2 linked regions of the Homo sapiens genome follow. The protein of the gene in region 1 purifies or fractionates together with the protein of each later gene. This does not show direct contact. Each region holds a gene or a part of one and is shown on either strand. Other genes may lie near its edges.

Evidence for each region. Proteins that work in one complex are often made in the same cells at the same time.
Region 2: the proteins of SMCHD1 (region 1) and TMEM154 purify together in Homo sapiens (co-immunoprecipitation; one large-scale study listed by IntAct). This does not show direct contact.

Annotation. Positions count from the first base shown.
Region 1 is NC_000018.10:2,704,226-2,707,725, forward strand, and holds part of SMCHD1 (structural maintenance of chromosomes flexible hinge domain-containing protein 1), read left to right. Parts: intron 1-1,468; coding exon 1,469-1,582; intron 1,583-2,138; coding exon 2,139-2,245; intron 2,246-3,337; coding exon 3,338-3,420; intron 3,421-3,500. UniProt on the Homo sapiens protein: Non-canonical member of the structural maintenance of chromosomes (SMC) protein family that plays a key role in epigenetic silencing by regulating chromatin architecture.
Region 2 is NC_000004.12:152,641,998-152,645,497, reverse strand, and holds part of TMEM154 (transmembrane protein 154 precursor), read left to right. Parts: exon of another isoform or gene 1-818; intron 819-1,055; coding exon 1,056-1,083; intron 1,084-2,324; coding exon 2,325-2,410; intron 2,411-3,500.

The DNA of each region.
Region 1 (3,500 bases):
TTCCATAATTTATTATAGCATTAAAAAAACTATTGCCAGAGGCTCAATTAACAAGGTTTTTATGGTTTCCTAAACTAAACTTTACTCACATGGAGATCTCAGTGTTTTTTGTTTGTTTGTTTGTTTTTAATGTAATGCGTTAAGTAATGATTTTTAAGTATTTTTTTGTTGAGCATCTGCTGACATAGTAAGTTACTGCACCTTTTGACTGTGTGGTGGAGAATTCAGAGATATAGGAGATGTGCTTTGCTCTTGGTGATATTATATCCTAGCAATGGGGATAGTGTAAGCATAAATAATAGGTAAGAAGTGGATCAATGCAATGGAAAGAAAGGATTAATAGTGTTTTGGCAGGTTAGAAGGAGAGAAGAGGAGAGGATTTTTTTTTTTTTTTTTTACTTTGGTTGGTCGTGTGGGCTGGAAGAACAGAGCAGATCGTTAAATACTTTGGAAAAGAAGTAACATTTGTGTGGACCTTGAAAGGGGTAGAGGCTCAGGTTTACACAGATAATTACAAGGTAGAAGGCTCTCTGTTCTCTCCATAAATGAGAGATACCATCATATATTTAAAGCTATAGAATTGGATGAGATCATCTATACTTGGTGAGTATAGCTAAAGAGGTAAAAGGATTGAGCCTGGAGCTTTCCCAACATTTAGTGGTTAGAATGAAAAGGAGGAGCTGGCAGAGGAGACTGACAGGGATAAGCTGGTGAGACAGAAGGAAACTAGCAGAATGTGACATCCCTAGAGCCAAGTGAAGAGTTACAAGAAGAAAGGAGTGATCAGTTTAGTCAAATGCTTAGTGGTAATGGAGTAAAGTGCTTTCTAGAAGGTAATCTGAGCATAGAGATGTGCGTAGGTTAAGTGCAGAAAAACAGCAAGTAGTAAGAGTTGGGTTGTCCTGCTGCCTATTGTATGTGTGAAGAGAAATAGTTTAGAAATGGGGCAGGCAAGGTAGGTTGGGATAAACTCTTATAGTCCTTGTTGGGAATTTCTGAATTGGAGTAGTGGAAATTTCCCTTAGATTTTTTAAACCAAGTAAGGAGAAGAAATATGATAGGCAAGTTTTGAGCTGATGTATTTGAAAAATAATATTAACTTGTCAAAGTTTATAAATTGCTGTTCATCATCTGAGAGCAGAATTTTATGGGGAAAAAAGGTTTCAGATATGTTGGCATTCATTATGACTGAATTTGAAGGAATTCTGGACTTGTAAGACACATGCTTAATTCTAACACATTTGTATAAAGAAGCTGCCATATTTTTACAACTATTTGTTAAGTACAGAACTTCAAAAATACAATTTTATTTTAATATTAGAATGCTGTTTTCATTAGTTTTTCTAATGATAGTTACCAAGGTTTTTTTCTTTGTAATAAAGAAGTTCTGTAAAATTATTATTAAGCCTTTTTCTCTTCGTAAATCTTAATACTGAAGCTTTTTTTTTTTTTAAAAACTAAATATTAGGTCAAGACAATCAAGACACTTCCCCTCTTTTATGGAAGCATAGTAAGATTTTTTCTTTATGGCGATCATGATGGAGAAGTATATGCTACAGGAGGAGAGGTTCAAATTGCAATGGTAAGACAGCAAGTGATAAAACATACTGAAAGTTTCTTGATAACACTTTTGCATAATTGTTAAGATACAGTATATTTCGCTAGTGACTAGTTTTCCATTGGATAAAGTGGTTGTAGTTTTTGTGTGGATTTTTATGTGTCATAAGTTGATGTTTTTAATAATCTATACAATTTAACATCATATGCTCAGTTTTTGTAAACATATATACATTATAACTAGTTACCAAATTAATTTTATAAAGTCATATTTCCTCTAGGGCCCACTAACTAGTAAACATTGGAGCCAGAATTCTATCTCAGCAATGAGTAACTACAAAACTGGAGTGGGTTTTTTCCCTATACCATGCTTTCTTGTTAATGTTTGATATGTTAGGACTACAGAGGTTATATAAAAAATATAAACAAACATTGTGGTGTAACGTAAGAATAGCTACTGTTATTTATGTACTTAATTAGGATAAAATATATTTCTTTGGAAGAAACAAATGGGTGTTTGTTTTTATTACAGCTAGATTTAAATAGTTTTCTTTGAAATGTTGGTAAATGTATTTATTCAGGAACCTCAGGCACTATATGATGAAGTAAGAACTGTGCCAATTGCAAAGCTGGATAGGACAGTTGCTGAGAAAGCTGTTAAAAAATATGTAGAAGATGAAATGGCAAGGTAAGTCACACTTCAAGATGCATGACAAAAATAAGAAAAATTGGAAAGAATTGTGCTGTAAGTATTCTGAGTATGTCATTTACTCTGCTGTTAGGGCATTTGTAGTCTTAGATATTGTACCTATTGAGATGAACTTCTTGTTGAAAAAAATTAAGAGGTCTAGTTATACAAACAGAATTCTGCATTTGTTTTGTAGACAAAGAAGGAAATCTTATATATCTAAAGTGTCACTTTTATAGGCACTATGATTAACATGTTTTAAAAAAACTCAGTTTGGCCTACAACTAGGATATTACAATACCTGCTGAGAGGTAAAGATGAGTGTATTAGTTCGTTTTCACACTGCTATAAAGATACTACCTGAGACTGGGTAATTTATAAAGCAAGGAGGTTTAATTGACTCAGTCGTGCATGGCTGGGGAGGCCTCAGGAAACTTATAATCATGGCATAAGGCGAAGGGGAAGCAAGCCATGTCTTACATGGGCGGCAGAAGAGAGAGAGAGGGAAGGGGGAACTGTCAAACACTTTAAAAATCATCAGCTCTCGTGAGAACTCACTATCAAGAGAACAGCATGGGGGAAACCATTCCTGTGATCCAATCACCGCCCACCAGGTCCCTCCCTTGACACCTGGGGATTAGAATTCGAGATGAGATTCGGATGGGGACACAGAGCCAAACCTTATCAGTGAGTTATAAAGAAGAAGAAGGAAGTAGAAAGTGGCTTTTCTTCTTGTATAGCTAATGATGCAATCATTTTGATTCTTACTGAATTTTGATTCTTAGGGGTTATCCTGTCTTCTAAAGGTAATTTGTACTATAAACAAGTAGAAAAAAAAAATCAACAAAAATTTGACAGTTTCTGGCTTTTAATTCCAAAAGGTTTTTTTTTTTCTTCTTCTTTTTTTTCAGTAGCCACAGGAATGGTTAGGGAGGAAAAAAATTTTTAGATGATTAATCGTAAAGAATTCCAGATTTAACCTTTTAAAATATATCAGCAATAAATATTTAAGTTTCTAATAACTCGTATCTTTTTAATTAAGATCATAATTAACAAAGTTTGTGGAACATTAATATGCTGGTTTCATAACAGGCTCCCTGATAGATTGTCAGTAACTTGGCCTGAAGGAGATGAATTATTGCCTAATGAGGTTAGGCCTGCTGGAACCCCTATTGGTATGTTTGTTTATTTTTCTAATACCAAAAAGTGTGCTTTTCTTTTGTCTTACATTTCCAATATGTAAAAGGTCACGAGA
Region 2 (3,500 bases), on another chromosome or scaffold:
TCCTGCCAAATGAAACAGGGCTTCAGCTGGGACATCAGGCTCCAATTCTCACCACTTGTTCATTTGGAGTCTGATGTGCATTACAGCCATTTTGTAAACAGTTACCTGACTCTCACCTCAACCAACAGGAACTAAAAACAGGCTTGTTGGAAGTTTCACTATGCTAAGTCTGAAATATTGGACATGAATTGAACCCCAGTGCTGGACAATTGAGGTTAACACCTAATCATTTATTCCACTGATATTGACTAGGCATTTACAAGGTACTGTGGTAGCTGGCTCAGAGCTGAGGGGATACCACGATAAATAAGACAGACACGATCCCTGCCCCTTTGTACTTTGTCTAGTGAGAGAGACAGACAGAAAAAAAAAAATCAAACAGACGGGTTGACCAATGAGAAATTGTGGCCAATATTATGAAAGATGCAAGCAAGGTGCTGAGCTGGGGAGCAACAGGAAAGATGGGCCCTTCTTTAAATAGAGTAGGTGGGGAAGGCCTCCCCGAGGAAAGAGTATTTAAGCTGGGACCCTGAAGTTGTGAGGGATCCAGCCATGCCAAGAGCAGGGGTAAAAGGAAAATTCCAAGGGGAGCCCTTGATGGAAGATCCCACATCCTCCACCAGGAGTGAGGCACAGTGTCACAGTGTTCAGCATGGTGTATCACAGGAGATGAAGCAGCAGCCTTTAGATCTGGGACATTTTACTGAAGGAGGCCAAGGAGCAAGCCCTCTTGTTTCACCCTCCCTTGCCTTTCCTTACCAATGTTTTCCTCTTCTTGTGGATGTAAAAAATAAAGACGGATGAACATCTGGTCTGAAGTGAGCGTTCTCAGCAGACCATCCACATCTAAAAGAAAGCAGATTTCACACGGATTAGGACCTCGTTTTAATATGGCAATCCACACTTCTTTGACTCTAAGTTAATGATCGCTCCTTTAAAAATGTTACTTAATGTCATTTTGCTCTCTTTGTAAAGGAGACTTCAGCTGTTGTTGAAATTAAAAGTTGTTACAGAAGAACAAAGCTAACATGACCTTTATGTTCATTTCCTTTTAGATGAACTGGGAAGTGAAAACGTGAAAGTGTAAGTTTTCCCTGCTGCTTCTGATCCACCTGGGGTGTGAACAGCAACTGTTAAGGTGGACAGCTGCCTTTTCAGGTGTTTTTGTTCTGACATCTTGCGGGACTCTCCTGCTTCCCAGGCGGGGTTGGAGATCCTTGGCAGCCTGAGGGAGGATGTGCTGGCATCCCCAAACCCTATCCAGCGTGTGAGTGTGATCTGGGCAAAGACAGCTTGGCATCTGTTTTATTTCATTGTCCTACATTCAGAAAAGAATCCTGACTGCTACCAATTTCAAGTGCATAGCAGTTAAATATTCTATCCCTAGCTGTATTTCAAGGACATTGGTTCATTTACTCTGATTAGAAATTTTATCACCAGGAAAGATACTTGAGCTGGTATTTAGCAGGGAGCCCTGGTCGAAGCAGAAGTTCACACAGCAAGAACCCCCAGGGATGGGAGAGAGAGAGGAGGAGAAGGGAAGAGTGGGAGGAGCAGGAGGAAGGGAGAGGAGGGAGGGAAGGAGGGGTGGGAGAGAGAAAAACAAGCCTCCACTCAGAAGCATGTTCTGGGGTGATGCCATATCCTCCCCATCTTCCAAGCAGCCTCCTGGTTTAGAAACTTTATCGCTTCCTCTACGCAGTGTACCGCCTACGCTGCTTTCAGAGCTGGTGGTCCATCCTTCCCCAACCCCATCTCCACTAACCACGGACTCTGTCCCCTGACTGTGCACTTTGAGCTTCTGCAAGTGAGGGCGGTGAATTTCTGAAAGCAACTGCTCCATTTCTCCAAGAGAGAAAGGCCTGGGAATTGAAGGGACAGGTGATAACTGTAGCCTGTTGACAGTGGCCTCTTGACCTGGGGCACTGATCAAAAAACCCCAAGGAACAGGAAGTGAAATTAAGCAAGGCTAAAATGCTTCATATGGCAACTCCCCGGAAGGGCCTCACCCTGGGAGCCTTGCAGACTTGACTTTGCACCTTCAGGGGAGCAGTCAGCCTCCTGGGTTCCCTTTTTTGTCCACTTGTTGGGCCTGTGGGCACCCCACTTTTGGACCTGTGATAAATGTATGTTTGTTTGTGTGGTAGCCTTTCTTCCTATTAAAGTTTGGTAGTTTGGAATAGGGCAAGCCCCCAGGCTTCCCTAGAGCATAAGGCACTGAATCAAGTTCATCTTCCTCAGGATCAGCATTCTAGTCTCTTTCCAAATGAAATTAGGCATCTTTCACATTTCTTTCTAACAAGTCTTTTGCTCTCTATTTCTAGCCCTATTTTTGAGGAAGATACACCCTCTGTTATGGAAATTGAAATGGAAGAGCTTGATAAATGGATGAACAGCATGAATAGAAATGGTATGTGGTAACCTAAAGTTGTTTTTTTTCTTTCCTCTCTAGTAACAGAAGGCTGCAACAGCTTTATAAATATCTCAATAAATCCTGGAGTGAGACAGAAGAACCCAATCCCACATTAGATCTGGTACATGCAGATAATAAACCTGGTCTGACAATACTTAAATATTCAGCTTAATTGTTGCCACTTGTTTTTATTTCTGTACAAGTTGTTGAAATGGTCTTTTTGAAGCAGAAAATGGTATTTTATTCAAGAAAGGAAATCTCTGAGGCCAAATGATCTGGAAAAAGTTAGCATCTGGCATTACCTTATACATTACAGAATTTAAAGATCTACAATTTTAAACTGACTATGGATATAAAACTTTATCAAATGTAGTATCCATAGATCTGTGCTGTTCAACGTAATAGATAATCACCAAATGTGGCTATTTAAATTTAAATTAATTAAAATTAAAATTAAAAAATATTGAGTGTTTAGTAGCCAATGGCTACTAAGTGGACAGTGTAATGTAGAATATTTCTATCACTTTAGAATGCTCTATTGGACATTGCTCATGTAGATGGTGATATACATACCCCATATAACAATTTCCAATTGATATCTGGCAGTAATGGAAGTATATGTTCCTTACTTTTTAGTAAATCAATAATGGGACTTTAAAATGATGACAGCTGCTTTTTCTTTTTCAAATTCCCTTTAAAAATTAATTATTTTTACTACTTAGATTAAATGAATAAAACCCAGCATTATCATGTCATTTGTATTTTTTACCATTTATCTTAAAAAAATACCCTAGGGTCTGTCAAATTCAACACTCTACAGTAGAGTTAGAAAATTCAGAGACTGGTTATAAGAACTATTACTACCAGGCCAGGCACGGTGGCTCACGCCTATAATCCCAGCACTTTTGGAGGCCGAGGCGGGTGGATAACCTGAGGTCAGGAGTTCGAAACCAGCCTGGCCAACATGGTGAAACACCATCTCTACTGAAAATACAAAATTAGCTGGGTGTGGCACATGTCTGTACTCCCAGCTACTAGGGAGGCTGAGGCAGGAGAATAGCTTGAACCCAGGAGGCGGAGGTTGCAG